Homo sapiens: one gene and its partners. The protein of the gene in region 1 interacts with the protein of each later gene in a pairwise test. Each region holds a gene or a part of one and is shown in the gene's direction. Other genes may lie near its edges. The genes, in order: ADAR, DICER1 and UPF1.

What was found.
Region 2: the proteins of ADAR (region 1) and DICER1 interact in binary tests that used the Homo sapiens proteins (3 or more experiments, as listed by UniProt).
Region 3: the proteins of ADAR (region 1) and UPF1 interact in binary tests that used the Homo sapiens proteins (3 or more experiments, as listed by UniProt).

Annotation. Positions count from the first base shown.
Region 1 is NC_000001.11:154,582,416-154,593,043, reverse strand, and holds part of ADAR (double-stranded RNA-specific adenosine deaminase), read left to right. Parts: intron 1-2,634; coding exon 2,635-2,860; intron 2,861-3,115; coding exon 3,116-3,287; intron 3,288-3,581; coding exon 3,582-3,675; intron 3,676-4,370; coding exon 4,371-4,493; intron 4,494-4,785; coding exon 4,786-4,919; intron 4,920-6,680; coding exon 6,681-6,863; intron 6,864-7,178; coding exon 7,179-7,291; intron 7,292-7,699; coding exon 7,700-7,827; intron 7,828-8,000; coding exon 8,001-8,238; 3' UTR 8,239-10,628. UniProt on the Homo sapiens protein: Catalyzes the hydrolytic deamination of adenosine to inosine in double-stranded RNA (dsRNA) referred to as A-to-I RNA editing.
Region 2 is NC_000014.9:95,152,298-95,162,847, reverse strand, and holds the start of DICER1 (endoribonuclease Dicer), read left to right. Parts: upstream 1-5,318; 5' UTR 5,319-5,618; intron 5,619-10,550. UniProt on the Homo sapiens protein: Double-stranded RNA (dsRNA) endoribonuclease playing a central role in short dsRNA-mediated post-transcriptional gene silencing.
Region 3 is NC_000019.10:18,854,321-18,864,948, forward strand, and holds part of UPF1 (regulator of nonsense transcripts 1), read left to right. Parts: intron 1-256; coding exon of another isoform or gene 257-280; coding exon 281-389; intron 390-558; coding exon 559-718; intron 719-803; coding exon 804-922; intron 923-1,604; coding exon 1,605-1,769; intron 1,770-1,865; coding exon 1,866-1,980; intron 1,981-2,556; coding exon 2,557-2,700; intron 2,701-2,999; coding exon 3,000-3,213; intron 3,214-6,000; coding exon 6,001-6,118; intron 6,119-6,505; coding exon 6,506-6,662; intron 6,663-7,689; coding exon 7,690-7,832; intron 7,833-9,117; coding exon 9,118-9,292; intron 9,293-9,849; coding exon 9,850-9,931; intron 9,932-10,628. UniProt on the Homo sapiens protein: RNA-dependent helicase required for nonsense-mediated decay (NMD) of aberrant mRNAs containing premature stop codons and modulates the expression level of normal mRNAs.

The DNA of each region.
Region 1 (10,628 bases):
CTTGCCTCAGCTCCTCGAGTAGCTGGGATTACAGGCATCTGCCACCACATCTGACTATTTTTGTATTTTTAGTAGAGACAGAGTTTCACCATGTTGGCCAGGCTGGTCTTCAACTCCTGACCTCAGATGATCCACCCGCCTCAGCCTCCCAAAGTGCTGGGATTACAGGCATGAACCACCGCGACAGCCATGACCTTTAATATCTAAATGCTGGAGACCACTCAGAGCTCCCGATTCCTCCATCTAGTTGCTTACTTGTCACCTCTGTTTGGATTAACATCCCTAATATGACATGTCCAAAGCAGAACTCTTGGGTTTTGCCCCCTTCGCTTCATTTCCCCCAAGTCTTTCCCAGCTTAGTAAGTGATACCACTGTCTACCCAGTGGCTCAAGTCAGAAACCTGAGGATCATCTTTTCCTCTATCTCCTTTACCTCCTTCGTCAACTCATCCTTAAGTCCTATTGGTTATACTTAGAATTTCTATCCCAAATCCCTTCCTCTTCTTTCCACCTCCAGCGTCAGCACTCTAATCCAAGCCACTGTCTCATCTAGACTGTCACAATAGCCTCCTAACTGATCTTTATACTTTATTTACTCAACACTTATTTATGGAGTATCTTCTATTTTTTTTAGAACAGGAACCAAACATTAACCAATAGTCACCTAAAGAAATGTAAGATCTCATATTTGATAAGTATTCCAAAGGGCTGGAGTTGCAGCGAGAATCAATTATAGCACAGTTTGACTTAGGAAGGAGAGGGGGAAGGGCTTCCCCAAGAAGTACTGCCTGAGCTGAGACTTTAAGGATGATGAAGAGAGAAAGACTGAGGGTTCTAGGCGAAGGACACTGTTAAATCCTGTGGTGGGAGAAGCGCAGAGCTGGCAAAGAGGCTGAGAGGAGGCACTTATGGCAATAGCCCCATTTGGCTAGTGGCTACCATATTGGATAGCACAGCTCTAAAGGATTCTAGTTGCATAATTAACAAACTTTATCATATATGTAAATATATCAGTATAAAACTTTGCACGTAAGAGTTCATATTCTTTTCAAACACATGGGGCAGTCATGAAATTCTCCTGGATCCCTGAGGTAAAGATACTACACAATCTGTCCCTCCTGACCGCCTTCACCATCTTCTTTTCATGCCACTGTCCCTCTCATTCTGAACTTAAGCCCACTGGCCTGCACGGGCCTGCCAGCATGGACAAAGAAAAGAGTGAAGGCATTTAGTTGCTTCGGATCATCAAGGAACAGTGAGAAACTCCATGTGGTTGAACATAAACGTTGATTCCTTTTACTGCCTGAGCTGCTAAGTCTTGAAACTGAAGCCTCTGTTATATGCAGTTAGAGTATCCAAAGCTGGGTTCTCAGCCAGTAGATTAGGATCTGGTTGAAAGCTAGGATTCTTGATGCCTTGTCTGGTACATTTCCAAGCTGTTTTGCTCCACCATGCTCTTCCCTCTGTGTTTGGAAATTACCAGCCGGAGCGGTAGAAGCCACCTCCCTGCTCCACTTGGGCACTTTATTGTCAGCGCAGCTCATGCGCCCAAGATCCATTCCTTACCCCAGAGTTAGCTTAAGCCTGCCAGGAGTCAAAAAAACAACTCCCAGCAAAACCTGGGTCCCTGGCCTAAGGCCGACCTTGACCTAATGACCTCTCCAGGTCAAGTCCCCTTGAGCTAATAGGAAGTAAATGAGGGAATGGAGTTGGGCGCTTTAAAAATCAGACAGTGTATGAAGTAACAGTGACTTGTGGGGAGAAAGGTAGTCCCTTCTGATTTCTGCTTAAGAAGAGAGTCCAAGTTGGTGCTAGCATTTCGTTAAGCCTTCCTCATACTTCATAATCTTCCTTTATAGTAAGGACAGGCTCAGAGCCTTTGCAGGTAACAGTATCTAGTCAGAATTTTATAACATGATTTTATCATATTCTGTTTTACAGCCACCTTCAATATGTGGCAAGTGATACTGGTTTTCCATTTACAGTAGTGAAACAAAGTTTCCTATTTCAGTGTGTTTACATTTTTATCTCTTTTTTCATACCTAGTATTACGGATATTTACATTTTTAGAGTCTGTTTGTTTATTTTAGAGATGGGGATCTTGCTGTCTCGCGCAGGCTGGAGTGCAGTGATATGGTCATAGCTCACTGCAGCCTTGACCTCCAGGGCTCAAGTGATCCTCTCACCCCAGCCTCCCAAGTAGCTGAGACTATAGGCACAGACCACCGTGCCCAGCTAAATTTTTTTTTTTTTTTTTAAGAGACAGGGGTCTCGCTATGTTGCCTGGGGGATTACTATGTTGCCCAGGCTGGTCTTGAACTCCTGGCCTCAAGTGATCTCCCACCTTAGCTCCTCAAGTTGCTGGGATTACAGGTGTGAGCCACAATGGCTGGCTCTAAGAAGTCAATTTAGAGAAAAATATTAATTAATAGTCCAAGTAATACCTGGATGTGGCACAAATCATGTGGTGATTCATGAATGACCAAAATCTAGGAAATGCTGCCTTAGAAACAGCTTCTGTTTGACGGGTCCATATGTTTGCAAGACTGGCCACATCTTCAGCAAAACTAACCCTTCCTTGGAACAATGTCAGGGTCTGGCACTTGTCTTCATTCTCTGTTTCTCATCCCAAAGGTTCGTTTACCAAGCAAAAGTTGGGGGTCGCTGGTTCCCAGCCGTCTGCGCACACAGCAAGAAGCAAGGCAAGCAGGAAGCAGCAGATGCGGCTCTCCGTGTCTTGATTGGGGAGAACGAGAAGGCAGAACGCATGGGTTTCACAGAGGTAACCCCAGTGACAGGGGCCAGTCTCAGAAGAACTATGCTCCTCCTCTCAAGGTCCCCAGAAGCACAGCCAAAGACAGTTAAGACGTCTACTTTTGGTGCCTTTTTTGGGGCGGGGGGGTCCTCCTAACTCCTAAGTGGAGGTGGCTCTTGCTGTCATGCGAGTTATTCCTAGGCTTTACTCTTAGCCTCGAGAGAGCAGTAACTGGGACACTAGATGTAAGAAGGAAAAGATGACTCACACGACAAGTAGAGCTTGATCTCCCTGCCCACGGTGAATATGGTGGACACAGCCTCAGCTTTGTGGTGCTGACACAGCCTCTTTTCCCCACAGCTCCCTCTCACTGGCAGCACCTTCCATGACCAGATAGCCATGCTGAGCCACCGGTGCTTCAACACTCTGACTAACAGCTTCCAGCCCTCCTTGCTCGGCCGCAAGATTCTGGCCGCCATCATTATGAAAAAAGACTCTGAGGACATGGGTGTCGTCGTCAGCTTGGGAACAGGTGAGTGAGGCTCTGAGACATGCCGCCTCCCATGGCGCCTGAAAGCGGGTGCCTCTCATCCTCCCCTGGAGTCCATGCATGTAAGTCCAAGGCAGGGAGAAGAGACTTCATTTTAGCTACAGTCAATTCAGAGTGAGGAATGAGTTCTTAGTTCCTAGAGGAGAGAATATGGGAGTCTAGGATCTGAGAAACTGAGGCTGTTTCTGCCTTGAAGCTTTCAGAACAAATAGCCTTCATCCTGTTTTCCATCGGTTTCCTTCCATTATTCTATTTCTGTTTTAAACACCTTCCTAGGGAATCGCTGTGTGAAAGGAGATTCTCTCAGCCTAAAAGGAGAAACTGTCAATGACTGCCATGCAGAAATAATCTCCCGGAGAGGCTTCATCAGGTGAGCGAGGTCAGAGCTGTGGCCCGGCTGCCCGGCTGTGGAGAGCTCCAGTTCCCTGCCCCACATGGCTCTGACACGGCCTCTGAATCCCCCTCAGACAGACGGGTCATGATGTGGCAGTGGCAGCCTTTGCTTTTCACCCGTCCATTTGAACCTGTCTGATGGAATCCATCCCCTCTGTGAGCTGAGCTGCCTCCCACTGCTCGGCCTGTTTTTAAATGCTGTCCTTTTTTCTGCTAACTCTGCTGCTTCATGTTCTTTTCTAAAAACACAAAATGACCTTTTAGTCCTCAGGGCCTTGAGGATGAGGCAGCTTTCCATTTCCGTTTGAGGACCTACACAACCTTGATGCCCCTGCCAGCTTTCTCCTCTAGCTCACCTTTTCTTTAATTTATGAAGGGAGAGACTTAGAAAGGAGCAACAGCTTCCTGTAGTCCTTGAATCAGTTTGCTCTGCTCTAGAATCCCTGTAGCCGCCATAGCGAGGAGCCCTCAGCAGAAATGAAGGAGACCCAAAAGGCTAACTATGCTTTATGAAATGCTGAGGTCTCCCCTGGAGAATTTCCACCTGATAAACTGTGAAACGTCTGCAACATTGAGACTTTTCCTTACTTTCTCATTTGGAGGTCAGATTATAGAAACAACTGCTTTTCCCAGAATTGAACCTGCCTTCCTAACCAGACTTTCTTTTTGTAGGTTTCTCTACAGTGAGTTAATGAAATACAACTCCCAGACTGCGAAGGATAGTATATTTGAACCTGCTAAGGGAGGAGAAAAGCTCCAAATAAAAAAGACTGTGTCATTCCATCTGTATATCAGGTCTGTACAGTTCCTGTTGCTGCCAGGGTGGGCCCTGCCAGGCTGTTAGAATTGGGTATCCAAATGCTCTCCTGGCCTGTAAATCGAACCTGATACAATAAGCCACACTCCACTGTGGGTTTGAGGTCCATATTCAGGTGTAGATGACTCACATGTACTGCTGTCCACCTCCAGTCTCCCATGGTAGGCCTTAGAAAACATCCCTTGCTTCTGTCACATCTGACTGTTTTGGAGCCCCACGAAATTGCAGATTTCCCACAGGTGAGTTTTAACAGCCACCCCTGTTTTTCAGCACTGCTCCGTGTGGAGATGGCGCCCTCTTTGACAAGTCCTGCAGCGACCGTGCTATGGAAAGCACAGAATCCCGCCACTACCCTGTCTTCGAGAATCCCAAACAAGGAAAGCTCCGCACCAAGGTGGAGAACGGTGAGTGATACATGCCCCCGCCTCCTTTCCTCAAAAGGCTCTGCAAGGTCCAGGGACCCCAAGTCTCTACAAGGCTGCTAGGATTTTACCATTAGTCACTGGGCACAGAGGTGCTGTTTACAGGAAAGGGAAGACCTGGGTCAGGGAGCTGTGTGGTAAGATCAGGGTTCTATTTTGAATGTGTTAGTTTGGGAGATCTGGGAGATCCCCAAGTCAAATAGGAGGTGGGGGTTCCCATGTGGAGCTCAGAGGAGGGAGCTTGGCTGGAAATAGAAATATGGGAGTCATCCCCCTATAGGGTCTTCATGGCCATGAGAATGCATAGGATTACCTCAAGAAAGCGGGGAGGAAATGAAGAGTGCGGCACAACCAAGCCCTGAGGAGTTGACAGATGAGGATGCCAAATGCTGGGGTCCCCTCCTGTCTAGCTGGCAGTTGACTCTGCCTTGTCCACTGGCTCCTTCTCTCCTATCCTCTCCTGTCTCCTTACTGTCTCTTCGCATCCACTCCATTGCGTTCAGGCCACGTCAGCAGTCATCATGGTGGTCCTGAAACCTTGCTAAATACCCTAAAGTATAGACACAGTTACCATGGAGCCGGTGCTCCACTCCTAGGTATATGCTGCAGAGAGATGGAGATCTGTGTCCACACGGAAACTAATATGTGAATGTTCATGGCAGCATTACTCACAAGAGCCAAAAAAGTGGAAACAACCCAGACGTCCATCAGCTGATGGATTCATAAATAAAACATCAAATATATCCATAAATTGAATATTATTTTGGCCATAAAAAGAAGTGAAGTGCTGATACATGCTTACAATATGGATGCACTTGAAAACTTGATGCCAAATGAAAAAAGCCAGTCACAAAAGATCACATATTGTATGATTCCATTTATATGAAATGTCCAGAATAGACAAATCCATAGAGACAGAAAGTAGATGAGTGGTTGCCAGGGCCAGGAGTGGGAGAGTTGGAGAGATGAGGAGTGACTGCGCCAATGGGTAGAAGGTTTCTTTTTGGAGCGATGAAATGTTCTAAAATTGACTGTGGTGACAGTTGCAGAACTCTGTGAATATACTAAAAATGACTGAATTGTATGCTTTAAATGGGTGAACTGTATGGCATATGAACTATATCTCAGTAAAGCATTTTTTTTTGTTTTTTTTTAAACCCGATAGTGGTTTCCCACTGCACTGCATATACAAGCAAAACCTGCTGTGATCACCCGGCCTCCTCTCATGCCACTTTCCCCATCCCTCGCATATGCTCTGTCCACACTGGCTCTCTGTCAGGCGCCTGAACAGCCAATCCGCTGGCTGCCTTGGGGCCTTTGCTTTTGTCCTGTGTGCCTGAAACACTTACTCCAGCTGTCCTCCTCCATGTCTGGGCTCCCCTGCTGCTGCTGTCCCAGGAGGTGTCCCCTGTGGTCCTCCGTCATAGCTGCCTCAGAGCCTTCAGAGCACTGTCAGCATCTGGAATTCTTCCGTATGTACTGGCTACTGGTTTAGTGTCTATTCTCTTCCCTTTCAATCTCCTCACCACCATAGATGTTTTAAGAGCACAAAGATCTTACTTGGTTTTGCTCACCGTTCTTTCCCAGCACCAAGCATAGTGCCTGGCGCATAGCAGGGGCTGTGAAATATGTGAAGAATGAATGAATGTAGCCTGTGGCCCAAGCTTAAGGAGGATAGAAACCACGCCAGGGAGTGGTTTGGTCCATTGGCGCCTGTGGGTCTGACCCAAGTCTCTCACACAGGAGAAGGCACAATCCCTGTGGAATCCAGTGACATTGTGCCTACGTGGGATGGCATTCGGCTCGGGGAGAGACTCCGTACCATGTCCTGTAGTGACAAAATCCTACGCTGGAACGTGCTGGGCCTGCAAGGGGCACTGTTGACCCACTTCCTGCAGCCCATTTATCTCAAATCTGTCACATTGGGTAAGGGGCCTGCCTTGGGATCTGGAACTGGTCTGTCCTTCTTGTGCCCAGATCCCAAACTGCATGCTTTATTGCCAGGTGTTTTGTCTCCCTTATCAAAGTGAGCATGATTCACTCCTCAGTAATTGATTGAGTGTCCAGTCTGCTGTGGTAGGAAGATCCTGGTAGCCCCAGTCAGAAGGTGCTTCCTAACAAGGCAGCTGTTTCTCTTTCTTGACAACTATATCTTGTACCTCCAAAATCCCCACATGCTTCTGCCTCTTAACAGCATTTGGTGCAAACACAGGTATATATGTTTCTCTTTTTTGTACTCAGGTTACCTTTTCAGCCAAGGGCATCTGACCCGTGCTATTTGCTGTCGTGTGACAAGAGATGGGAGTGCATTTGAGGATGGACTACGACATCCCTTTATTGTCAACCACCCCAAGGTGCTATAACCCCCTTCTATTTTCCCTGACATTTTCCTCCTTTTCAAGCAGTCATGTAAACAGAGGAAAAATGTACACTGTGGGCAAGGGGAACATTGCCCACAGTGGTAGCCCACAAGGGAACATTGCCCACAGTGGCCCACCACCAACATTGGTTGGTCTCCCAAGAACTTAAACTTTCTTCCTTTTGGATGCCAAGGGCTTTTCTTCTCTTAGTCTGGAATTAATCTGAATCGAGGTGGAGTTAGTATGTCTAGAGGGTGCTCAGTCTTAGCCAAACAGAACCCTAAATACAGGGGAAAGATCATGACCCCACACTTCCTCTCTCCTATGAGTCTTGAGTCCCTGCTTCAGAATCTTATTCCTGAAAGGTTTCCATCTTTCTCCCGTTGCTTCTGGGATTCCTAGGTTGGCAGAGTCAGCATATATGATTCCAAAAGGCAATCCGGGAAGACTAAGGAGACAAGCGTCAACTGGTGTCTGGCTGATGGCTATGACCTGGAGATCCTGGACGGTACCAGAGGCACTGTGGATGGGTAAGGAGACAGGAGAGCGCAGTGAGGACCAAGCCTCTGCCCTGACTTGCAAGGGTGCATCATACCTCTGCAGTCTCAGGGCTTGAGAGCCGCCTCCCCTCCCACGGTGTCTCCACTGTGAGCTCCTTATCTTACAGGTCCCAGGTGAATAATGAGTGCTTTTGTTTCTCTAGGCCACGGAATGAATTGTCCCGGGTCTCCAAAAAGAACATTTTTCTTCTATTTAAGAAGCTCTGCTCCTTCCGTTACCGCAGGGATCTACTGAGACTCTCCTATGGTGAGGCCAAGAAAGCTGCCCGTGACTACGAGACGGCCAAGAACTACTTCAAAAAAGGCCTGAAGGATATGGGCTATGGGAACTGGATTAGCAAACCCCAGGAGGAAAAGAACTTTTATCTCTGCCCAGTATAGTATGCTCCAGTGACAGATGGATTAGGGTGTGTCATACTAGGGTGTGAGAGAGGTAGGTCGTAGCATTCCTCATCACATGGTCAGGGGATTTTTTTTTCTCCTTTTTTTTTCTTTTTAAGCCATAATTGGTGATACTGAAAACTTTGGGTTCCCATTTATCCTGCTTTCTTTGGGATTGCTAGGCAAGGTCTGGCCAGGCCCCCCTTTTTTCCCCCAAGTGAAGAGGCAGAAACCTAAGAAGTTATCTTTTCTTTCTACCCAAAGCATACATAGTCACTGAGCACCTGCGGTCCATTTCCTCTTAAAAGTTTTGTTTTGATTTGTTTCCATTTCCTTTCCCTTTGTGTTTGCTACACTGACCTCTTGCGGTCTTGATTAGGTTTCAGTCAACTCTGGATCATGTCAGGGACTGATAATTTCATTTGTGGATTACGCAGACCCCTCTACTTCCCCTCTTTCCCTTCTGAGATTCTTTCCTTGTGATCTGAATGTCTCCTTTTCCCCCTCAGAGGGCAAAGAGGTGAACATAAAGGATTTGGTGAAACATTTGTAAGGGTAGGAGTTGAAAACTGCAGTTCCCAGTGCCACGGAAGTGTGATTGGAGCCTGCAGATAATGCCCAGCCATCCTCCCATCCTGCACTTTAGCCAGCTGCAGGGCGGGCAAGGCAAGGAAAGCTGCTTCCCTGGAAGTGTATCACTTTCTCCGGCAGCTGGGAAGTCTAGAACCAGCCAGACTGGGTTAAGGGAGCTGCTCAAGCAATAGCAGAGGTTTCACCCGGCAGGATGACACAGACCACTTCCCAGGGAGCACGGGCATGCCTTGGAATATTGCCAAGCTTCCAGCTGCCTCTTCTCCTAAAGCATTCCTAGGAATATTTTCCCCGCCAATGCTGGGCGTACACCCTAGCCAACGGGACAAATCCTAGAGGGTATAAAATCATCTCTGCTCAGATAATCATGACTTAGCAAGAATAAGGGCAAAAAATCCTGTTGGCTTAACGTCACTGTTCCACCCGGTGTAATATCTCTCATGACAGTGACACCAAGGGAAGTTGACTAAGTCACATGTAAATTAGGAGTGTTTTAAAGAATGCCATAGATGTTGATTCTTAACTGCTACAGATAACCTGTAATTGAGCAGATTTAAAATTCAGGCATACTTTTCCATTTATCCAAGTGCTTTCATTTTTCCAGATGGCTTCAGAAGTAGGCTCGTGGGCAGGGCGCAGACCTGATCTTTATAGGGTTGACATAGAAAGCAGTAGTTGTGGGTGAAAGGGCAGGTTGTCTTCAAACTCTGTGAGGTAGAATCCTTTGTCTATACCTCCATGAACATTGACTCGTGTGTTCAGAGCCTTTGGCCTCTCTGTGGAGTCTGGCTCTCTGGCTCCTGTGCATTCTTTGAATAGTCACTCGTAAAAACTGTCAGTGCTTGAAACTGTTTCCTTTACTCATGTTGAAGGGACTTTGTTGGCTTTTAGAGTGTTGGTCATGACTCCAAGAGCAGAGCAGGGAAGAGCCCAAGCATAGACTTGGTGCCGTGGTGATGGCTGCAGTCCAGTTTTGTGATGCTGCTTTTACGTGTCCCTCGATAACAGTCAGCTAGACACACTCAGGAGGACTACTGAGGCTCTGCGACCTTCAGGAGCTGAGCCTGCCTCTCTCCTTTAGATGACAGACCTTCATCTGGGAACGTGCTGAGCCAGCACCCTCAGATGATTTCCCTCCAAACTGCTGACTAGGTCATCCTCTGTCTGGTAGAGACATTCACATCTTTGCTTTTATTCTATGCTCTCTGTACTTTTGACCAAAAATTGACCAAAGTAAGAAAATGCAAGTTCTAAAAATAGACTAAGGATGCCTTTGCAGAACACCAAAGCATCCCAAGGAACTGGTAGGGAAGTGGCGCCTGTCTCCTGGAGTGGAAGAGGCCTGCTCCCTGGCTCTGGGTCTGCTGGGGGCACAGTAAATCAGTCTTGGCACCCACATCCAGGGCAGAGAGGTCTGTGGTTCTCAGCATCAGAAGGCAGCGCAGCCCCTCTCCTCTTCAGGCTACAGGGTTGTCACCTGCTGAGTCCTCAGGTTGTTTGGCCTCTCTGGTCCATCTTGGGCATTAGGTTCTCCAGCAGAGCTCTGGCCAGCTGCCTCTTCTTTAACTGGGAACACAGGCTCTCACAAGATCAGAACCCCCACTCACCCCCAAGATCTTATCTAGCAAGCCTGTAGTATTCAGTTTCTGTTGTAGGAAGAGAGCGAGGCATCCCTGAATTCCACGCATCTGCTGGAAACGAGCCGTGTCAGATCGCACATCCCTGCGCCCCCATGCCCCTCTGAGTCACACAGGACAGAGGAGGCAGAGCTTCTGCCCACTGTTATCTTCACTTTCTTT
Region 2 (10,550 bases), on another chromosome or scaffold:
AATGGCCACTTTACAATCTAGTCCTGCCTGCCATGGTGCCAGCTCAAACACCCGGTAGATAAAAGCGCTAAGGAGAGTCATGTAGATCCTCACCTGCTTGCTCCCTCCCCTGCATGCCATTCATGCCAAGTCCCACTTTAAAAGCCCCTGCTTTCTGCCCCAAAAGCAAATCAGTACCTTAAGGCAGGAACCTGCACTTTTCCCCCTACGTTAAGCTTTGGAATAAAAAGTCACTTTCTTTACGGCAGACCTCACTCTTGTTAATTGTGCTCTGTAAGCAGTGGGCTGCTGAACCTATGACTGGGTTACAATTCCATTCTTTTTTCTAAATATATTATTGAATTCTATTCTAAAGAGCTCTTTATTGCCATTTATTTTTTTTTTTTGAAAGTGTGGACTCATAGATTCCATTTTAACCCATGGGATATAATCTCCTGCTACTGTGATTTATTTTGATGTTCAAATTGTCCCAGATTTGGCCAACAGGAGCCCTTTCAAGCTGATTGCTTTGTCCTTTTGAACTGTCTCCACCATTTCTTGAGCATTTCCACACTTTCTAGCACAAGATGTTCCAGTCTCATACTATACTTTCTCTGGCCCAACCCTAAAATCAGCCATTTCTCTAAAGCGCCCTGGTTCCTTTTCATGGAGAAAGGTGTTTAGAGCTAGGTGTTAGGTGTTCTCTTGGCTAATGTGGTGTTGCTGCACCAAGACCTTCTCACTGGTTAGGCCTAGGAAATATATGTAAATACATTTATAGACATGTGTGTGTATATAACTGACTGTGGAAAAATTACACACCCTATTCCCTCACCCTCAACAATTAACAAAGAAGACTTCAGTGACCAAATGTCGGGGGGCGTTTCCCCACACACCAAGCAAGCAATCGATTCTGCAGCAGACACCAACTGGGTGTCCTCCAATTCCCTTCTAACCTGGAGATAGCATCAGATCCCACAGGTTGAGGCTCACTCCCCAACACATCCCAACAACTGCCCCACTCTGTCCCTGGCCACTGACCAGTCCCAAGTCTGGGCCTCCAGAACTTCCGACAGGCTTCAAGTTGTGGTTGCCATGACCCCCTCTTGGGTTAGATTAATTTGCTAGAGCAGCTCACTGAACTCAAGCAAACACTTATGTTTACAAAAGATATTACAAACAATACAGATGAAAAGATAAATAGGATGAGGTGTGGGAGAAGGGGCTCAGACCTTTCATGCCTTCCCTGGGTGCACCACCCTCCCAGGAACCTCCTGGTGTTCAGCTATCTAGAAGCTCTCCAACCCTGTCCTCATGGGTTTTTATGCAGGCTTCATTACATAAGGGATGACTGATTAAACTATTGGCCACTGGTGATAACCTGACCTTCAACCCTTCTCTTCTCCAAGAAGTTGGTGATAGGCTGAAGGTCCAACCCTCTGATCCTGCCTTGGTCTTTCTGATGACCAACCCCATCCTAAAGCTACCTAGGGGCTCCCAGCCACGAGCCAACTCATTAGCATACAAAAGACATCACTTCGGTGTTTGTAAGAAATTTAGGAGTTGTACACCAGAAAATGAGGTCAAAGACCAAATATATATTTCAGAATCTCACAAAATATATAGATACACACTTTTACATTTATATTTATTTTTATATCTACATGTATTAAGAACCATGACTTTACATGAATATCTCCAATTCCAATCCAATCACACAAACTTCTTGCTTTTCTTATTTCTGTACTTGTAACTCCCTTCTCCAACAGGGAAAAATCTGGCTCCCATTAGCCTCAATATAGTTTTTCTTTGTGTAGTTCTCCTGTATGTAATCAGCTGTCTGGCCTTGCAGGGCTGCTGCCCCACCTTCCTTCTTTGGGCTCAGACTCCTCACTGAACTGACAGCCCAGTCCAATATGGGAGTGACTATATTCTCCCATGTAGATGGAAAAGCAGAGAGAACAAGTTAGCAGAGATACATAGAAAACAATCACAAGGGGCACAGAGAGTACCTTTTGGGTTCCTGGAAGCTTTTCAATGACTGGTTCTAGTTTTTGCTAAGATGTGGCTGTATTCCTGTTCTGGGCTTTTGTGAGAAGCACCTATATCATTATGGTAAATTCTCCCTTTTTGGTTGCGCTAGTTCAGCTTGGTTTCTGTTACTTGCAAACAGAGAGTCTTAAAGGTATATTTAAATCCTGGCTTGTTCTACAAAAAATAAACCAAATTGTGGAAATAATAGGGGCTAAGGGAAAATAAAAATTAGCCCATAGAAAATGCATGCCACATGGTACTATACCGTTGCTTAACACGGGCTGAAATATAGGCTTTAAGATTTCTAGTGATCCAAACAAAGTGTGAAACAATATCCCTTACAAGATTTTATGTCTCTGGATTTAAAACAAACCAGCAAGTGGAGCATGAATAGATAGACCATTAGAACGGATACAGAGTCCAGAAGTGAACTGCTCAATAAATGACTGTGTAGCCACCTGGACAAAAAAATTAATTTGGATCTATACCTCACCCTATATATTAAATCGATTCCAAATGGATCAACTTTTAATTCCAAAAGACTTAAAGTCTAAATGTCCATCAATAGAGAATTGGTAAATTATGGTATGGATATACCTGCAATAATATGTTAAGGGGGTTGAAAAAACAGCAAGGAGCTCTCTATGTGTTACTATAAACATGCCCCCCGGATACATTAAGTAAAAAACACAAGGTGGAGTAAATATGTATGGCATGCCGGCATTTTTCTAAACAAGGAACACAAAGGGCATATCTTGGCTCATATATACATAAACATTTTGAAGAATGAGCAGGAAACAGTGGTCACCTATTTGTGACACTAGGACAGGTGTGAGGGACATCTTTTTCCACTGTGTATCTTTTATAGGCTTTCTGATAAATGAATAATATGGATATACTATTTATTTTAAAAATAAAAACTGAAATTGATAAAAATCAGACAAACCGGCCAGGCGCAGTGGCTCATGCCTGTAATCCCACCACTTTGGGAAGCCGAGGCAGGTCAGGAGTTCGAGACCAGCCTGGCCAACATGGTGAAACCCCGTCTCTACTGAAAATACAAAAATTAGCCGGGCGTGGTGGCACATGCCTGTAACCCAGCTACTTGGGAGGCTGAGGCAGAAGAATCGCTTGAACCTAGGAGGCAGAGGTTGCAGTGAGACGAGATTGCGCCATTGCACTCCAGCCTGGGCGACAAGAGTGAAACTCTGCCTCAAAAAAGAAAAAAACAAATACATAAAATTAAAAAAATAAAAAAATCAGGTATACCTGCTGATGGAACAAGCAGCCTGGCTAGTCTTGACAGATTGCAAGAGGGCAACCAGAGGGGCTGAAGTTGTACCAGCCCACAAATTTCCACTGCCAATAGAGTCCAGTGCCTACCCCCATACTGAGATGCTGTCCTTCTCATAAAGGCTTATCAGGGAGTCCACCGAAGAGATATCTACATTTGGGGATAAGTTAAGACGATGTTCTTTAAGCCAGACACTTATTTAACGCCCACCGATATTTTAATTCCTAGCTACAAAGAAAACCTTATATGTATGACTGGGGTCTTAAAGGTATGACATGCTCACCGTGCTTGACATATAAGAAACTACTTTTTTAAATACATGGGTCTGCCAGGAGCATCCTACTTCCTAATTTTGCCCATAAATATGCTACTTTCAAGTGAAACCTTAAGCCAATTCATAGTAAATATATTATCAAAATTTTAGCACAGTAATGACTGAGCACACCAGCCTCAAAGCCAGACTACGTGGGTTCAAATCTCAGTTGTTCACTTACTGGCTACTTACTTGTTGGAAGTTATTCCATTTCTTCGTCTGTTAAAACAGGAAGCAGGCTGGGTACGGTGGCTCACGCCCGTAATCCCAGCACTTTGGGAGGCCAAGGCGGACGGATGACAAGGTCAGAAATCGAGACCATCATGGCCAACATGGTGAAACCCCGTCTCTTCTAAAAATACAAAAATTAGCTGGGTGTGGTGGCGTGCCCCTGTAATCCCAGCTACTCGGGAGGCTGAGGCAGGAGAATCACTTGAACCTGGGAGGCGGAGATTGCAGTAAGCCCAGGTCGCACCACTGCACTCCAGCCTGGAGACAGAGTGAGACTCCGTCTCAAAAGAAAAAAAAAAAAAAAACAGGAAGCAGTTTCAGCACCTACCTCACAATGTGCACACAGTTAAAGCACCTACCTCACAGGGTGCACACAGTTAAAGCACCTACCTCACAGGGTGCACCTAAGGATCACAGGCATGCAAGCCCTAGATCAGCCTGCCCAATGGCAATATAATGCAGGCCACAGGTGACATTTAAAATTCTGTAGAACCCACACTAAAAAATAAACAAATAAAACTTTTATCCCAATATATGGAAAAAGTTTATCACTTCAACATGTAACAATTTTTTGAACATTATTTGGTAAAGAATGCATATATCTCGATTCCGACTAGCCATACTTTAAGTGCTCAGGAGCCATGTGGGGCTGGTGGCCCCAAACTGAACAGCACAGCCCAGGCAGCAGGGGCGCATAGTAGGTTCTGCTCACGCCCATGGTCTGAAAGAAACACGGTTGCAGTTGCTGTGAGCACACCTCACCTGGAGCAAACCGGCCTATCAGGGGGTCCACTGAAGAGATGTCTACATTTGGGGATAAATTAAGAAGATGTTCTTTAAGCCAGCCACTTATTTAATTCCCACCGATATTTTAATTCCTAGCTTCAAGCTGTGGTGCGCGGTTCCGACCTATGCAAATGAACAGCTTACAAACAGAGGGCCACCATCTATTTCTCATTATCTGGGGATCCCGGTTGGGGTGGGGGGCGGAAGTGGGTGTTTGTTATTTCCCCAAATGCGGAGGCCCCTGCACCACTAACGCGAGGAAACGCAGGCGAGTGGGAAGGTACTTTAAAAAGGGGAGGGAGGTGCTCAGAGGGAAGCTAAGCTCTCCGGGAAACAATTACGGCCACGTTACGGTCTGTGGGTGCCAGAAGGAGCAACAATGGAGGCAGTCGAATTCCGAGAGCTCAGAGAGTCTGCCAAACTTAGCCGGCCTCGGCGCGCGGGTTCCCGGGGGCCCCAAAAACTCCGGGCAACTGCGGCCCAACGCCAAGGTCCAGTCCAGGCGCTGGGCCGCAAACGCCTCTCCGGCCTCCGCGCGCGCGCCCGCTGTCTCCCTGCTCCTGAGTGGCTGGGGGGCCGGGATTAACCTTTCACCGCCAGGCCCTGTCCAATCACAGGCTCGCTCTCATGCCGCCACGGGGCGAGCGGAGCGTGGGGGCGCGGAGGGGCGGTGCGGGAGCCAGTGGGATTCTCCAAGCGGCTGTGCGCCGTTGCCGCGGGCCGTGCGCTGGCTGCCGGCCAGCCGGGCGCTGCGCAGTCTCCGCAGGCGCCGGCGGGAGGGGTCGAGGCGGAGGCGCGGCGCAGGCTGCTGCAGGCCCAGGTGAATGGAGTAACCTGACAGCGGGGACGAGGCGACGGCGAGCGCGAGGAAATGGCGGCGGGGGCGGCGGCGCCGGGCGGCTCCGGGAGGCCTGGGCTGTGACGCGCGCGCCGGAGCGGGGTCCGATGGTTCTCGAAGGCCCGCGGCGCCCCGTGCTGCAGGTGAGGCGGGCTCCCGCGGAGCAGCTTTGTGTCCGGGGCGGGGAGCGGGTCGCCTGGCCGCGCTCCCGCCTCCGCGCGGAGGCCCGCGTGCCGGCCATGGCCCCGAGCCGCGCGTCCGGGCCTGGCGGGCGCTGACGAAGGGCGCGGCCTCGCCTGCCTCGTCGTCCCGCACAGCGCGGCCTGTGGACCCGGCGTCTGCCCGCCTCGGCTCTGCTCCTGGGCCCGGACCCCGGCGCCTCCCCGCGAGGCAGCCCTGGGAGACTTTCCGGGCCGCCGTGGCGTGGTGGGGGATGCCGGCGCCTGTCCACTCCCCGGCCTGGCGAGGCCTGGGGCTCTTGACAGGTCCCGTCACGCGCGCTAAGGTGGCGCGGGAGCAGCGGAGGTGGAGACGCGCGCCTGACCTGCCGGAGCACCCTGGGGCCCTCCTCTGATGGGGCCGCTGTGCCGCGCCCGGAGGGGACGAAGCTGGGCTCTCGGTCCCTCCCGGGAGGGTCCTGTGTGATTACTGTCAGGGGACCAGATTGGGGCCCTGGGGGGCGGGCAGGGGCCGAGGCCATTCTTTTGCCTCTCCCCTCAGATGTTTTTGTGCCAAAATGCCTAGACCCTGCGGAGGACCCTTTCTTCAGGGTTTTTGATTTTGGGGAAATCAGTGTATGTTTTAAGTTAGCACATCAGATTTCTGTAGATTGTCCAGAAAAGCTGAGTTGCCCTGATGGCTCTGCCTGGAGGTCAGAGCCAGCAAACCACTGAGTGTGTCCTTAGGAACCTGAAGATCCGCGGAAACGTGGAGATGAGTTGGAGGGTCCTATTTGTGTAGTGTTAACTCCGTGCTTTTGTGGAGAGAGTTGTGGTTAAAGGGACACGTTACTGGTCTACACGATAAGTAAGTGTTCTTAGGACTTTCAGGTTTTAAAAACATTCATCTGATGAAAGAGGATCACTTGGACGCCTATGCTTCTGTCTTCGAATATTCTGAATCTTTACAATCCTGATTGTCAGGTGTCTTCGTGGTGCTTGTTTTCAAACAGTGGAAAAGGACTCAGGTTAGGATTTAAGCAACTCGGAAAATATTGTTAAAAATGTGCTGTTAAAACAGGTTAGCTATATTGAATATGTATTGGTGTAAACGTTAAGTTTTCTAAATAAAAATATACATCCTCACCAAAAAACTCAGTTTATTAAAAGATGGGTTCGGGATAAGCCAGGTCCTAGAGAATAGTAATTTTCAATATTATTGATATCTTTGGAAATTAGGTTCTGGAATAGCCAGTTTATTTTGCAAAGTCTACTTTAAAGCTACCTGTGGCACGTGTGTATTATATGTAATATGTGCTGTGTACATGCACATACATACACAATTATTTCAAAACTTCATTTTAGGGCATATTCCATAAAACTCAATAGATAAAAAAACAAAAAACTAAAGATTGCTTTTAACATGGTCACTATAAACATTGATCATGGTAACATAGGTTTATAGATTTACTCACGGCACCAAAATGCTGTTTTAAGAAGAGAACAGTTAGTCCATTTTAATTTGGGGAGAAAAGACATTTTCCTACAATCCTTTTTAGTAAGGGCCTGCTTTACTTTTTATGCTTCCATCTCATGTTTGAAGGGTAAGCCCTGACTGCTCTGCTGTATTTTGCCCGTGGCTCAATGTGTGAGTTGGGTAGCTAGGTTGTTTTGCTATTATTGAGCTTTATTGTCTTGGTTTTAGAAGACATTGTCTTTTGATGTGGCTCATGATTCTTATTTGACAGTGATTTTGTCATATAGTGGGTTGTACAGTACTTGTAGTGCTATCTTCTAGAGAGGGTGACTTTTATGGCGTTGGGATGTTTTATTCTCTACCACTATCTGACATGTGAGGTGCTTGTTTCATTTGAGAAAGTAGATATTTCGTAGACAGTCTCTCACTTGCGACCCTACCATGTCATGGTCACGTTTCCACTTGCTCATGGCAAAGGAGATAAGGGAAACGTGTTATTGAGTGCCTCCTTGTTATGCGCCAAGATGTTTCAGGTTCTACGTACATTCTCTTCTAATCCTCACTGTGACCCTGCGATCAACTCGATATTGTCCTTGTTTTATAGGCAAGGAAACTAAGAGTCAGTGATTATTACCCCAAGTTAGGAATCTCGAAGTGGCAGAGCCGAGATCGAATTGTGGTTTGGTTTCAGAATCTTTGGAGGCATGCTTTTTGTATTGCATTACTGTTCCAAATGGATTTCAGGGCTGCATCACGTGTAGTGACTCCTCAGTTAAGACTTGTGGAATGAATGAAGCTGTGTCTAACCTTAAATGTTCAGGTGAATGAATGGTTATTTGAATATTTCAGATAGTTGTTTTTTTTTTTTTTTGGCATGGTAAAATATACATAACACAACGTTGAACCATTTTAAGTGTACAACTAGCTGGCATACAGTACATTTACATTGTTTTTAGTCATTACCAGCATCCATCTCCATACTTTTTCATCTTTCCCAACTCAAACTGTCCTCATTAACACTAACTCCTGATTCCATCCTACCTTCAATGCCAGAGAACCACCATTCTACTTCCTGTCACTGACTACTGGAGAAACCTCAAAATAAGTAGAGTCATACAGTATTTGTTCTTTTGTGTCTGGCTTATTTTACCCAGCATAGTGTCTCCACGGCTCATCTGTGATGATTTAGATGTCAGAATTCCCTTCCTTGGAAAAGCTGAATGGTATTTCATTGTATGAATATACTGCATTTTGTTTATCCATTCATCTGTCCATGGCCACTTGGGTAGCTTCTATCTTTTGGCTACTGTGAATAATGGTGCTGTGAACGTAGGTATACAAATAATTCATTGGAGTCCATGCTTTCCCTTCTTTTAGACATATACCTCAAAGTGGTCACATTGTTTCTTGATCTTCAAAACACTAGACTAGACTCAGAATTTATTGCAGTATGAGTTTTCTCAGGGTTCCTCCAAGCAGTGATAATTTCCTACAAACAACTCCTCTGTCAGTAAAATCTGTAATCTCTCTGAAGCCCAGGGTCGACTCCTTTTTACGATCTTGGTTCCAATCATAGTGTCTGGCAGGTATTCAAAAAACTGATCAAACATGGAGTGATGTGCTTTATTGAATGCCAGAGGAAGATATTGGTGAGGTCTTTAATTTGTATAAAGAGAAAGTTGGAGCCAAGTGACTTATTTTGTTTACCTTTTGCTGTGCTTTTTGGACATTCAAGAGCTTAGTTCATCCTGAAAGCCCAGTGTATGTATTATACTCGCTCTTATTCACAGGTTTCTTTGCAATTTACGACTTGCCAAATGACTAGTCTTCTGAGGCAGCATTATTTTCTTGGTATTCCACCTCCTTAGCCTGTGGGGCTTGGACCTTTTGATTTTTTGATGGCTAGTTTTCACTTCTTCCAAATTTCTGCTAAGACTCTAGTATTAGTACATTTATTTAATAGTTTATGATGTCTATTTTGAGAAAGGATTTGAAATGGTCTTATAATAGGAAAGTATTAGAGTACTATGAAAATGGTAAAGGTTGGTAGTATAGAATGTGGAGGCAGAGAATTAGATGAATGATTGGGGCAAGGAAAGGTGAGTGCTGCATGTAACTCACGTTGATTAATGAAAGGAAGCATACCAATTTGAAGCAGATTTTTCTCTTGTATGAAGAATAATCAATCTTTTGGATTATTACATTAAATAACATTAGCAATATATGGAGAAAATGTTTTACATTTTACAAACGATAGAGAAACATTTTTTCACATGCCATTTTAGAGAAACTGGATAAAAGCCTCAGGCATAATAGAAAAGCTTTAGTAATACAGGTGTTCACTGTTCCAGTGGTTTGATTCATTAATTTCTTTTGGGTGGTGTCCCTCGAATATCAGTTGTCTCATTCAGGCTGTTGACAGATGCTAAATAACAATCCATTCAGGAATAAGCTCTGTGGACAACATGGGCAGTGAGGATTTTCCAAATAGGAATTCTCACCCAGTCTTTTTTTTTTTTTTGAGACGGAGTCTCACTACGTTGCCCAGGCTGGAGTGCAGTGGTGCGATCTCAGCTCACGGCAAGCTCCGCCTCCTGGGCTCATGCCATTCTCCTGCCTCAGCCTCCCGAGTAGCTGGGACTACAGGTGCCCGCCACCACACCCTGCTAATTTTTTGTATTTTTAGTAGAGATGAGGTTTCACCGTGTTTAGCCAGGATGGTCTTGATCTCCTGACCTCGTGATCCTCCCGTCTCGGCCTCCCAAAGTGCTGGGATTACAGGTGTGAGCCACCGTGCCCAGCCCTCTCACCCAGTCTTTAGGAACGTGTGTTGGTCTAAAAAGTAAGACTGGTTGTATCGTGGTGTATACTTGATGAATTAATACAGAAAGAAAAAGATTATTTTTGAGATGTAGCTGGTGAAATTGACATTTTCAGTTATGTAATAAAGCCTTTGTTAAAATAATTCTGAGTGCAAAATGGCTTCCTCATCTAAAATTGTCAATGAATTGTTGGTACTCCTTTAACATGCAGTTACCTCAATATGCATTTTAAATAAGTGACTAAGAAGATGCTACAAAACATTCTCTGAGGATGTCAGTAAGACTGTTACTAGAAGTAAGACATGACAGGCTTAAGTTTGGCCTTAGAGTTTTTTCTTTTTGTTTTTTAGGCTTATAACAGCATTACATGTTCTTGGTTGTGTTAAGGTTTATGGAATAGTAAGGATTAGATTCTTCATGCATGTTCATTACCAGACATGGTGCTTGACATATAGGAGACACTCCGATTTGTTGAGTGAGTAAGTTAATTTATAATACTTTTTGAAGTATTTAGAAGCTAACACAGTTTTGTGGGGAAGAATATTGCTTGCATATTAAGGCTTTTAAAAAGATTATTACTATTCTGCTTTTGGACAAATCATGCTACTTGGTCCTTTT
Region 3 (10,628 bases), on another chromosome or scaffold:
TGAAAGGGGCCTAGATGGGTGGCTGGGAGTGGCAAGGAGGAACTCCAGGCTGGCTGGGGGTGGGACACCGGCTCATGGTGAGGTAGAGTCTTTCTTCAAGGATGCTGTCCTTCTGGTCTCTGGTCTGGTGTTGGCTGCACGTTTTTAGCGTTTGGTGCAGAGCCAGCGGTGTCTTAAGTAACTAAATTTTAAAAACGCTGTTTAAAGAGCGTGTACCAAGGGTGGCCCAGAAAGGTCAGCCCGGCTTTTGACAAGGATGCAAACTTAACTCAGCACACAGATTATGGCGATGAGATCGCCATTGAGCTGCGGAGCAGCGTGGGTGCACCTGTGGAGGTGACTCACAACTTCCAGGTGGATTTTGTGTGGAAGTCGACCTCCTTTGACAGGTACGTCTTCTCCCATCACTGCCCCCTGTTCCCTGGTTGCCACCTGTGGCATCTTTATGAGCCCTCCCCGTCACTGTGGAGTGGGGTTCCCCACCCAGCTCTGCAAACTCAGGATGTCGGAGAGGCGGCCACAGCTGTGCGTGTCGCCAACCCCAAACCCTCCTCACAGGATGCAGAGCGCATTGAAAACGTTTGCCGTGGATGAGACCTCGGTGTCTGGCTACATCTACCACAAGCTGTTGGGCCACGAGGTGGAGGACGTAATCATCAAGTGCCAGCTGCCCAAGCGCTTCACGGCGCAGGGCCTCCCCGACCTCAACCACTCCCAGGTGCGCGCCGTCCTCAGCGCGCGGGGCCTCGCCCATGGGCCGGGACGCAAGCGGAGGCTGCCCCTAACGGCCGCTTGTATTGAAGGTTTATGCCGTGAAGACTGTGCTGCAAAGACCACTGAGCCTGATCCAGGGCCCGCCAGGCACGGGGAAGACGGTGACGTCGGCCACCATCGTCTACCACCTGGCCCGGCAAGGCAACGGGTAGGGCTGACACGGCCCTTGCGGGCAAGACCCGGGAGGGCTTTAGGGTGGCCAGATGGAAGGCCTGGTGCTGGGAGCCTTGGGCTCTGTCACACCGAAGAGAGCACGTGGCGGGTAGTGTCGCCATGGTGCCTACCGCTCTCTATGTGACATTATTCGTGTCAGCTCCAACCTTAGGATTGCATTTTAGTAACCAGGTCTGCTACTGGTTTAGAAAACTGGGGGCAGGGGGGGCATGGCTGCAGCAGCGTGAGTTCCGTGTGCGGCACTTTATAGTGTGGCGGGATGGTGCAAGTTCCAGCCTTGGCATTGCTTGCGGTGGGTAGAGCTGTGAAGCCTGGGCTGTCTGGATCTGAGCTCCTTCGGCATCGTGTCATTACTGCCTGTTAAAAATGTCAGGAGTTTAAGGCCAGCCTGAACAGGGTGAGACGTCTCTACAAAAAAAAAATTCAGAAATTAGCTGGGGGTAGTGGCGTGCACCTGTGGTCCCAGCTACTCAGGAGGCTGAGGTGGGAGGATTGCTTGAGCCCAGGATGTTGAGGCTGCAATTAGCTGAGATCACACCACTGCACTCCAGCCTGGGCAACAGAGCAAGACCCTGTCTCAAAAAACAGAGTCTTGGCTTACTACGTTCACCGAGCTTCCTCTGGGTAAGCACTGAGCTGCCCCAATGGTGTTGCAGGCCGGTGCTGGTGTGTGCTCCGAGCAACATCGCCGTGGACCAGCTAACGGAGAAGATCCACCAGACGGGGCTAAAGGTCGTGCGCCTCTGCGCCAAGAGCCGTGAGGCCATCGACTCCCCGGTGTCTTTTCTGGCCCTGCACAACCAGATCAGGAACATGGACAGGTGTGTGTCGAGTCCATCCCTCCCAGTTGGTCCCTGAGCTTCTGCGGGTGACATGTACAGAACTCAGGCACCCTGCTGACCTGCATGTGCTTCCAGCATGCCTGAGCTGCAGAAGCTGCAGCAGCTGAAAGACGAGACTGGGGAGCTGTCGTCTGCCGACGAGAAGCGGTACCGGGCCTTGAAGCGCACCGCAGAGAGAGAGCTGCTGATGGTGAGTGCCCCTCCTGCCTGCAAAAGGGCCTGTGGGCTGGCGGCCTGATGGTTTTTGTTTGGGCCAAAGCACCTATTTGAATTGTTGCTTTGCTTCTGGAAAGAGAACTTAGATGCTCTCTACTTGGCCTCTCTGCGCTCAGTTGTACAGTAAATTAGGGACATCTCGCTGCCTGGAACACGGTCTTCTAGGGAGTCTCCACTCCCTGCCAGCCTCCACTGGGATCCGGCAGTGGATCTAGAACACTCCTGCTCTTTCATAACCAACCAGCCTGAACTGGAATCAGCCTGAGTGCAGGTTCCAGCAGCTCAGCACTGCCCCTTGGAGGCTGTCGTGAGGCGCAGAGCTCTTGGTGTGGAGAGGTTGCCTTCTGTGAAACATGACCGTTTAAGGATCTTAAAAGTTTGTAATCACCACAGCCTGGACCATGTATCTTGTCTGGGAGGGACAGCTTGTTTTTTATAGTGTCAGGGAGGGTGAGAAACAGGAGAGCTTCTGTGTTCTGTCCCACCTGCCCTCCGGGGTCTGGTGGCGTTTACAGTGCAGGTGCCCTGATGCCTCTGCACCCTTCCCCAGAACGCAGATGTCATCTGCTGCACATGTGTGGGCGCCGGTGACCCGAGGCTGGCCAAGATGCAGTTCCGCTCCATTTTAATCGACGAAAGCACCCAGGCCACCGAGCCGGAGTGCATGGTTCCCGTGGTCCTCGGGGCCAAGCAGGTGGGCTGCCTCCCCTGCCCTCCTGTGTGAAAACTCGTGTGTGTGATTCTTGGTGTTTGTCTTTTAAAACACCTTGTATTGACGTAGGATGCCCAGCAGAGTGTGCGCACACTGGGGGCTCCCTGAGGGGTTTATAGAGGGTGGGTTCTGCCAGCTGCACGTCCAGTGTGCGTGGTGAGCAATGCCCCTGTGGCCAGGTGGTGTCCTGTGCATCCTGGGGCCCCTACTTCCTTGCTAGTGTGTGTTGAGGCTGATTCACACCTGAGCTTCTTGACTTGTGGGGGCCCCTGTTCCTACAGCTGATCCTTGTAGGCGACCACTGCCAGCTGGGCCCAGTGGTGATGTGCAAGAAGGCGGCCAAGGCCGGGCTGTCACAGTCGCTCTTCGAGCGCCTGGTGGTGCTGGGCATCCGGCCCATCCGCCTGCAGGTCCAGTACCGGATGCACCCTGCACTCAGCGCCTTCCCATCCAACATCTTCTACGAGGGCTCCCTCCAGAATGGTGTCACTGCAGGTAACGGGGCTCTGCCCAGGGCAGGGGCTTCTACAGAGAAGCGGCATCAAGGGAATGTGGACTGGGGAGAAGGAACTGGCCCATCAGCTTCCCCTGAGCGGCTTCACATAGCCACTGCTTGAGGTCAGGGCACTTTGTGCCCAAGGTCTTGATGGTATGGTCTTGGATCAAGTGGTGTCTCTGGGGCATGTGGGGAGCCTGTGTCCTCTGTAAAACTCAGTCATTGCCTGAGAATTCATCCAAGCCTCATGTGGCAGCATGCACAGCAGCCAGGACAGGCTGTTAGGGGAGCTGAGCCCGGGCCTTAACGTGGGCTGTGCATTCAGTGCTTCATGAAGAACAGCTGTTCTCAGGGCCTGGGCCCCTGGGGCCCGCAAGACCGTGTCCGGCTTCCCTGGATAACACAGAGGCCTCACCTGCCCTTTTTCACTCTGCTGACGCTCACACTGCTGGTGACCCCCTGGTGCTTCTGCAAGAGTCAGCCCAGAGCAGCCAGACTGTGCCCGGATCACAGTAAGAAACGCCCTGGATGAGGAAGTGAACAGTACATCTTACTAAGCCTCGAGTGTTTCACTGTGACCAGATAAAATTTCTCGTGACACCTTTGGGTATGCCGGCGCTTGAAGGAAGTCCTTGTGGACACACCCTGGGTATTCACCCCAAGGTGTTGGGCAGACTTTTTCCAAAAATGATCGAACCTGTCGCTTCATGGAGAACTAGTGGCAACATCTGTTACAGTAGTAAAATTCAAGTGAAAACCAGAATTTTGGAAAACTTAACGTCGCTTGCCATGAGCTTGGTGTCTTCCCAACACCTAGAGACTTTTCTGGTGAGGTCTGTGGGGGTGACAGATGGAATGTTTCCACCATTGCCAGTGAAATGTGTCAGCCTTTGGAAGACCTACTTGACTCGGTGGGAGATCCTTCCTGAATGACCAGCAGAGTGTCACGAAGTCACATGGGGATGGAGTGGCAAAGAGTTGTCACAGGCCTGCAGAAACCCACCTTTGTCCAGCTTGATGTGGCCTCAGGGCTGGAGACTCCCAGCCATGCAGAAAGGCTGTAAAAACAAACCCATCTCCCTTTCCAGCCTCAGGCATCCATGAGGCCTGGCTTCCCCACAGCGTCCCCAGAGCCCAGGAGGGTGGACTGAGCAGAGGTGGACCCCAGGGCCCAGCTGCCTCCGATTCAGCCAGATAGTAAGGAGATTTGCAGAAATGGGAGACAGGACCACTCTTCTTACTTAGCTTATTTTTGGAGAAATAACTAACACGTAATGGGTTATTTTTAAATGAATTAATATATTTTTTAAATTTCCAAGTTTAGAGAATACAGTTATCCAATAAACAAAAGCTGTTTGGACTCCCTAACTTTTGAGAGTGTAAAGGGTCCTGAAAGCTGCCGACACAGCGCCTCATGAACTCCAAACCTGTGAGGTTGGTATTGTCAGGCCTAGTTACAGGAGAAAGTGAGGCTCAGAGCCCACCCCCCGGGTTGGGCCACACCACTCTTTGCCTAGCGGTAGGTCTTGGGAGTTGATGCCACTATTGACATCGCAGGGACACCGCTGTTCCCAGCGCATGGCAAGGCTGAAAACACAAGGCCACAGAGACCTAGCTTGTGCTCTGGGGTGTCTGAGCACTGGCTGGGAAAGGCGTGGCTCGGCGCAGGCTCAGACCCCTCATGGTCCCCAGGGCATCGGCCCAGAGGGCAGACGCTGGTGCACACTGCTCTCTAATTGATGCACAGCACGTAGTTCACACCCAGGAAGTACATTTTAGGAAATTCTCTATTGAAGTGTAAACATGTGGCCACATTACAAGTGTCTGGCTCAATGAGTGGTTACTAAGTGAGCATATTTGGATAGCCAGCACCTGAACCCAGAACCACCTGACCAGCTGTGAGAAGCCGCCTCATCCCTGCAGGTGGCCACTGTCCAGGGGTGCGCATCCACAGCAGCCCCTGGGCTGAGGGACTTCTGAGCTCATCCGGCGGCCCCTGTGCTCGCTGTAACAGCAGTGATCCACTTGGCCTCATTTTCAGCTCGACGTGGGATCATATGATGTGTCCTGGCGTGTCTGGCTTCCTCTGTCCATGTCAGGCTGGTGCTGTGCAAAAACACCGGTTTTCTCCACTGATGGAAGCTCCCAGTAGAGTGAGGAGGGCACCTGTGAATTGAGAAACTGGTTTTACAGTTTTAAGGAAACGCAACAGGGCCCAGAAAAGCCAAGATGAGCATGAAGAGCCCGAAGAAAGTGGCTGCTCACATGGCAGGACGCCCCGGCCCCCAAGCTGCAGTGTTGGGCCCCGGCCCAGGAGGGAGCCCAGAGGCAGAGCCACCGGTCAACAGGCCCTCAGCAGGAATGGACAAGGCTGCAGGGCAGGGGGACACTGTTGGCTCAACAGTGTCACACACAAGTCAGTTGTAGGGGCTGTGGCGCCTTTAAGGCAAGCTTCTGGAAGGAAGCAGGAGAATATCCTGTATCCTGGGGTTGGCAGAGATCCAGGCTGCAAGAAAGCCCTGGCTGAGACCCTGTTCCCTGTTCAGGGGCTGAGCCAGCTCTGTGCTGGCCATGGTGCTCTCGGTGGCCTCTCCTCAGCCTTGCCCAATCCTGGGCATCTCTGGCCAGGGGACCGGCTCAGGTGACCTCACCAGGGCCTCACAGATCGAAGTCTCCTGCCCCAGGACCTGCAGCACTGTAGCGTAGCAACTACATTGCCCTGTGTCTGAACTCATTTGAGGCGGGCTAGGGCTTTTGAAGTGTTACTTCTTTCCCTCCCCTCACAGCGGATCGTGTGAAGAAGGGATTTGACTTCCAGTGGCCCCAACCCGATAAACCGATGTTCTTCTACGTGACCCAGGGCCAAGAGGAGATTGCCAGCTCGGGCACCTCCTACCTGAACAGGTGAGCAGGGACAGGCCCACCGGCGTCTGCAGGTCTTGGGGACAGCTTGAGAGGTTGTTGACCCATTCTACTTATTTTTAACATGGGACTGAAACTTTTTTTGCCTTCATTTCCTGTTTAGCCTGTTTAGACTCTAAACCGTGTTGTTTCTGCCTCCTTTTCCATTGTACTTGTTTTTTATTGGGCAGATACTTGCTAATCCCACATGGCAGCCGTTTCTGCCCCTCGAGACTCCCCTGGTGAAGGCTGGGGAAGCTCAGCTGTGCAAACGCCAGTGATGGCAGCTGCCTTCCCGCAGGGTGTTGTGTCTGCACCCCTCACGGCCTCCAGCCTCAGGGCTCGGGATCCCACAGGTGGAGCCCAGCACTGACAGCCTGGGTTTCTTAGGACCGAGGCTGCGAACGTGGAGAAGATCACCACGAAGTTGCTGAAGGCAGGCGCCAAGCCGGACCAGATTGGCATCATCACGCCCTACGAGGGCCAGCGCTCCTACCTGGTGCAGTACATGCAGTTCAGCGGCTCCCTGCACACCAAGCTCTACCAGGTGCGCTGCGCCCTCGGGCACACTTGGTCTCCTGGGCCATGCAAGGGTATTGACCCTTGACCTTTAAGTTACCCCCCAAGAGGGGCCCGTCCTGGCTGGAGCTCAGAATGGCCCAGGAAGCACCAGCTGGCCCACCCTCTGGGGAGGGCACAGACAGCACATCCCCACAGACCCTGCGAAATTCCACATGATCAGGACAGAGACTTTGAGAAATACATCACAGGGATCAGAAACATGGGCTGAGATTGGCACATCAAGGTGTTTTCTCGGGATGGTTGAAACAAGTCCAAGGTGGAACGGCAGTGGTCTGTGCCTGCCACACACTGGATGTTGTGCTGTGGAGACCGTGGTGTTCACACCTTTATTGACACCCGGATGAAACACCCACTGCGGGTGTGTGGGGAGGAGGCACAGCTCTGCCTCCATGAGGAAATGAGCCCAAGTGCTGAGTCTGAGTGGCCACATGGCAGTGGTTTCTGTTCTGTTTTTGAGCACGGCTCAGGTTCTCTGGGATGAGCACGTGTGCTCTTAGTGCTGAGAAACAAATCTCCGTGGCTAAAAGAGAACAGGCTAGGTGTCATGGCCCACACCTGGAGTCCCAGCACTTTGGGAGGCTGAGGCAGGGAAGTCGCTTGAGGCTAGGAGTTCCAGACCAACCTGGGCAACGTAGGGAGACCCTGCCTCCACCAAAAAAAAATAATAACTGGGTATGGTGGCATGTGTCTATGGTCCCAGCTACTCAGGAGACTGAGGTGGGATCAGCTGAGCCTGGGAGGTCAAGGCTGCAGCGAGCTGAGATTGTACCACTGTACTCTAGCCTGGGTGACAGAGCAAGATCCTGTCTCTAAAAAAAGAAAACAAAACGAAATGGCAGCAGAGCCAGGACAGCCCCTAGGTGCGGTGAGCAGGCGCCAGGCCCCAAGCTCCCGGGTGGGATTTGAGGGTGGGTCTTGGTGTGTTTCCTGCATTTTGGGGGGACTGGGAAGGCAGCCTGCTGGCTGATAGTGACCACAAAGCTCCCTTCCAGGAGGTGGAGATCGCCAGTGTGGACGCCTTTCAGGGACGCGAGAAGGACTTCATCATCCTGTCCTGTGTGCGGGCCAACGAGCACCAAGGCATTGGCTTTTTAAATGACCCCAGGCGTCTGAACGTGGCCCTGACCAGAGCAAGGTAGGGAGGCTGCCTGCTGCATGCTGCCCAGCCGCTCATCGGTCCTCACTTCCCAGGGAATTTGGGGCTAGGGTTGGGGGTTGCCAGGGCCAGAGGTCAGAGGACTCTGAGCAGCAGTTGAGAAACGATGTCTCACTGGAGAGATCTTTGTTTCCGTGTCCTGGGGGTTTGCTGTGGCCCCTGTGCCTCAGCCCAGCAGGACGTATTTTTCCAGGCCCTTCTGGTCTGATTCAAAATAAATCTTGTGTGTGTCTGTCAAGTTGTTTAATCTGAGAGGCTGTAAGTTTTGGTCCTGTCCACTATTTTTGGTTCTAAAATACAACTTTTGTGAACTGATGATAGCAGAAGGGACCCCGAGAACAAGGTGTCCATTCTGTCATCCCACATAAAACTAGACATCAGGCCAGGCATGGTGTCTCACACATGTAATCCCAGCACTTTGGGAGGCCGAGGCAGGTGGATCACCTGAGGTCAGGTGTTCTCGACCAGCCTAACATGGTGAAACCTCCTCTCTACTAAATACAAAAAAATGAGCCGGGCGTGGTGGCACATGCCTGTAATCTGAGCTACTTGGGAGGCTGAAACAGGAGAATCGCTTGTACCTGGGAGGAGGAGGTTGTGGTGAGCCGAGATTGCGCCATTACACTCCAGCCACTGGGCAACAAGAGCAAAACTCTGTCTCCAAAGGAAAAAAAAAAACACTAGACAGCAAGGACCCATTCACCAGCTGGAAGTTGGGGGGACCTGGCCTGTGGCTCCACCCAGCACAGGGAGAGAGCCTGGTGCTCCTTCCGGCTCATATGCGCGGTGGTTCTCCTCTAGGTCACCATGGCTTTGTCATTGGTTACTCCCTCTTTCTAAGGCGCCCTCTTGTTTGGTGGGCAGTATTGGGTGGGTCCCCCCACAGCTTCGTGAGGTGGGCTAGAGGAGCTGGGCATCGGGTCAGTGCCCCGGCCTGCTGGGGGCCCTGTGGGGCCGCGTGTGCCCCGGTGCCTGGAAGGCCGACTCTCTTGACAGCAGGTCTTCTCTCCAAACGTATCCACCCAGCCAGGTGTCTGCCATGGGGCTGCTTAGAGTCGGCCACAAAATCAACCCGTGTGCAGGGTCAGTGGCTTGGCATTGGGCTTTGGGGCCTGTCCCTGTGGCTGGCAGCCTGCCTGCTGCCCGGTCCACGCCTCTGTTGCCTTGGATTTGGGTTCTGAGTGAATGCAGCCTTGCCTCTTGGACCGTCCTGTGAGACGGGCAGCTCTCCACCTGCGTCCTCAGCACTGCGCCCTTGTTGCAGGTATGGCGTCATCATTGTGGGCAACCCGAAGGCACTATCAAAGCAGCCGCTCTGGAACCACCTGCTGAACTACTATAAGGAGCAGAAGGTGCTGGTGGAGGGGCCGCTCAACAACCTGCGTGAGAGCCTCATGCAGTTCAGCAAGCCACGGAAGCTGGTCAACACTATCAACCCGGTGAGCGCCTGCACAGGACAGCAGGGCAGCACGGAGAAACCCGGGCCCAAAACACTGCTGGGAACGTGCCAGCTTGGCCCGTGTGCCCGTGAGCTGAGGGAGGGCTCTCCTAGGGGAGGGTGGGCTCTCCTAGGGGAGGGTGGGCCAGCCCACTTCTTGTCTCCCGAGCCGTGTGTGGCATTTTTGGCTTGGGGCCGCTAAGTCCTGGGTGGCCTCTGGGAATTGGGCTCAGGGCTGCTGTGCTGCATGCAGCAGCCTGGGACCTTGGACACGGGCAGTTGGAAGCTTTGCAAGCCCGGGGTGATCTGGTAGTGAGGGGGTGTGAAGCTTCCTGAGCTGAGGCCCAAGGGTCAGCATCAGAGCCCAGGTCTGCCGAGGAGGGCAGGCGAGACCCAGAGGCCATGAGACAGCAGCTCCCTCCTGTCTCCAGGGAGAGCCCCTGGCACAGTGTCAACACCTCACAGCTGCATACCTGCCACCTCCCAGGCCACCGGGCCCGTGGGAAGTTGTTCCTTCTGTTGAGATGACAAATTCCTCACCTATCTAAACCTTCGCAGGGAGCCCGCTTCATGACCACAGCCATGTATGATGCCCGGGAGGCCATCATCCCAGGCTCCGTCTATGATCGGAGCAGCCAGGGTGAGTCGCTCAGCAGGGGACCTGGCCGACCCCTTGTCCTCACACCGGGATGCTGGCCGTTCCCATGGCTGCAGCTTTAGGTGCCCCCATCTTTCCTTCCCCTCAAGGGCGGTGCCTGGCTCCCTTGGCCTCCCCGCCCCTAGGGCATCTCTAGCCCCGGAACACTCCTGGGGTGTTTGTCTTTAACCAGAGTTTATTCATTTGTGTTTCCTGGTGATCAAGCTAGTTAGCTTTTTCTTGCCTTTTGGTAGGGCAGGGACTGCATGTAGTACAAATAGAACATTTTCATAAAAAGGATTTTTTTTTTCCTTTGGTAAATGCAGGGTGATTTTCATTTATTTTCTTTTTTTTGTTTAGAGACAGGGTCTCCCTATGTTGTCCAGGCTGGTCTCAAACTCCTGCCTCAAGCAGTCCTTCTGCTCAGCCTCCCAAAGTGCTGGGATTACAGGCGTGAGTCACTGCACCTGGCCAATTTGCAGGTGTTTTTTTTTTTTTTTTTTTTTTTGGAGACCGAGTCTCGCTCTGTTGCCCAAGCTGGAGTACAGTGGTGTGATCTTGGCTCACTGCAACCTCCCCCTCTGGGTTCAAGCGATTCTCCTGCCTTGGCCTCCCGAGTAGCTGGGATTACAAGCACCCACCACCATGCCCGGCTAGTTTTTGTGTTTTTAGTAGAAACGAGGTTTCGCCATGTTGGCCT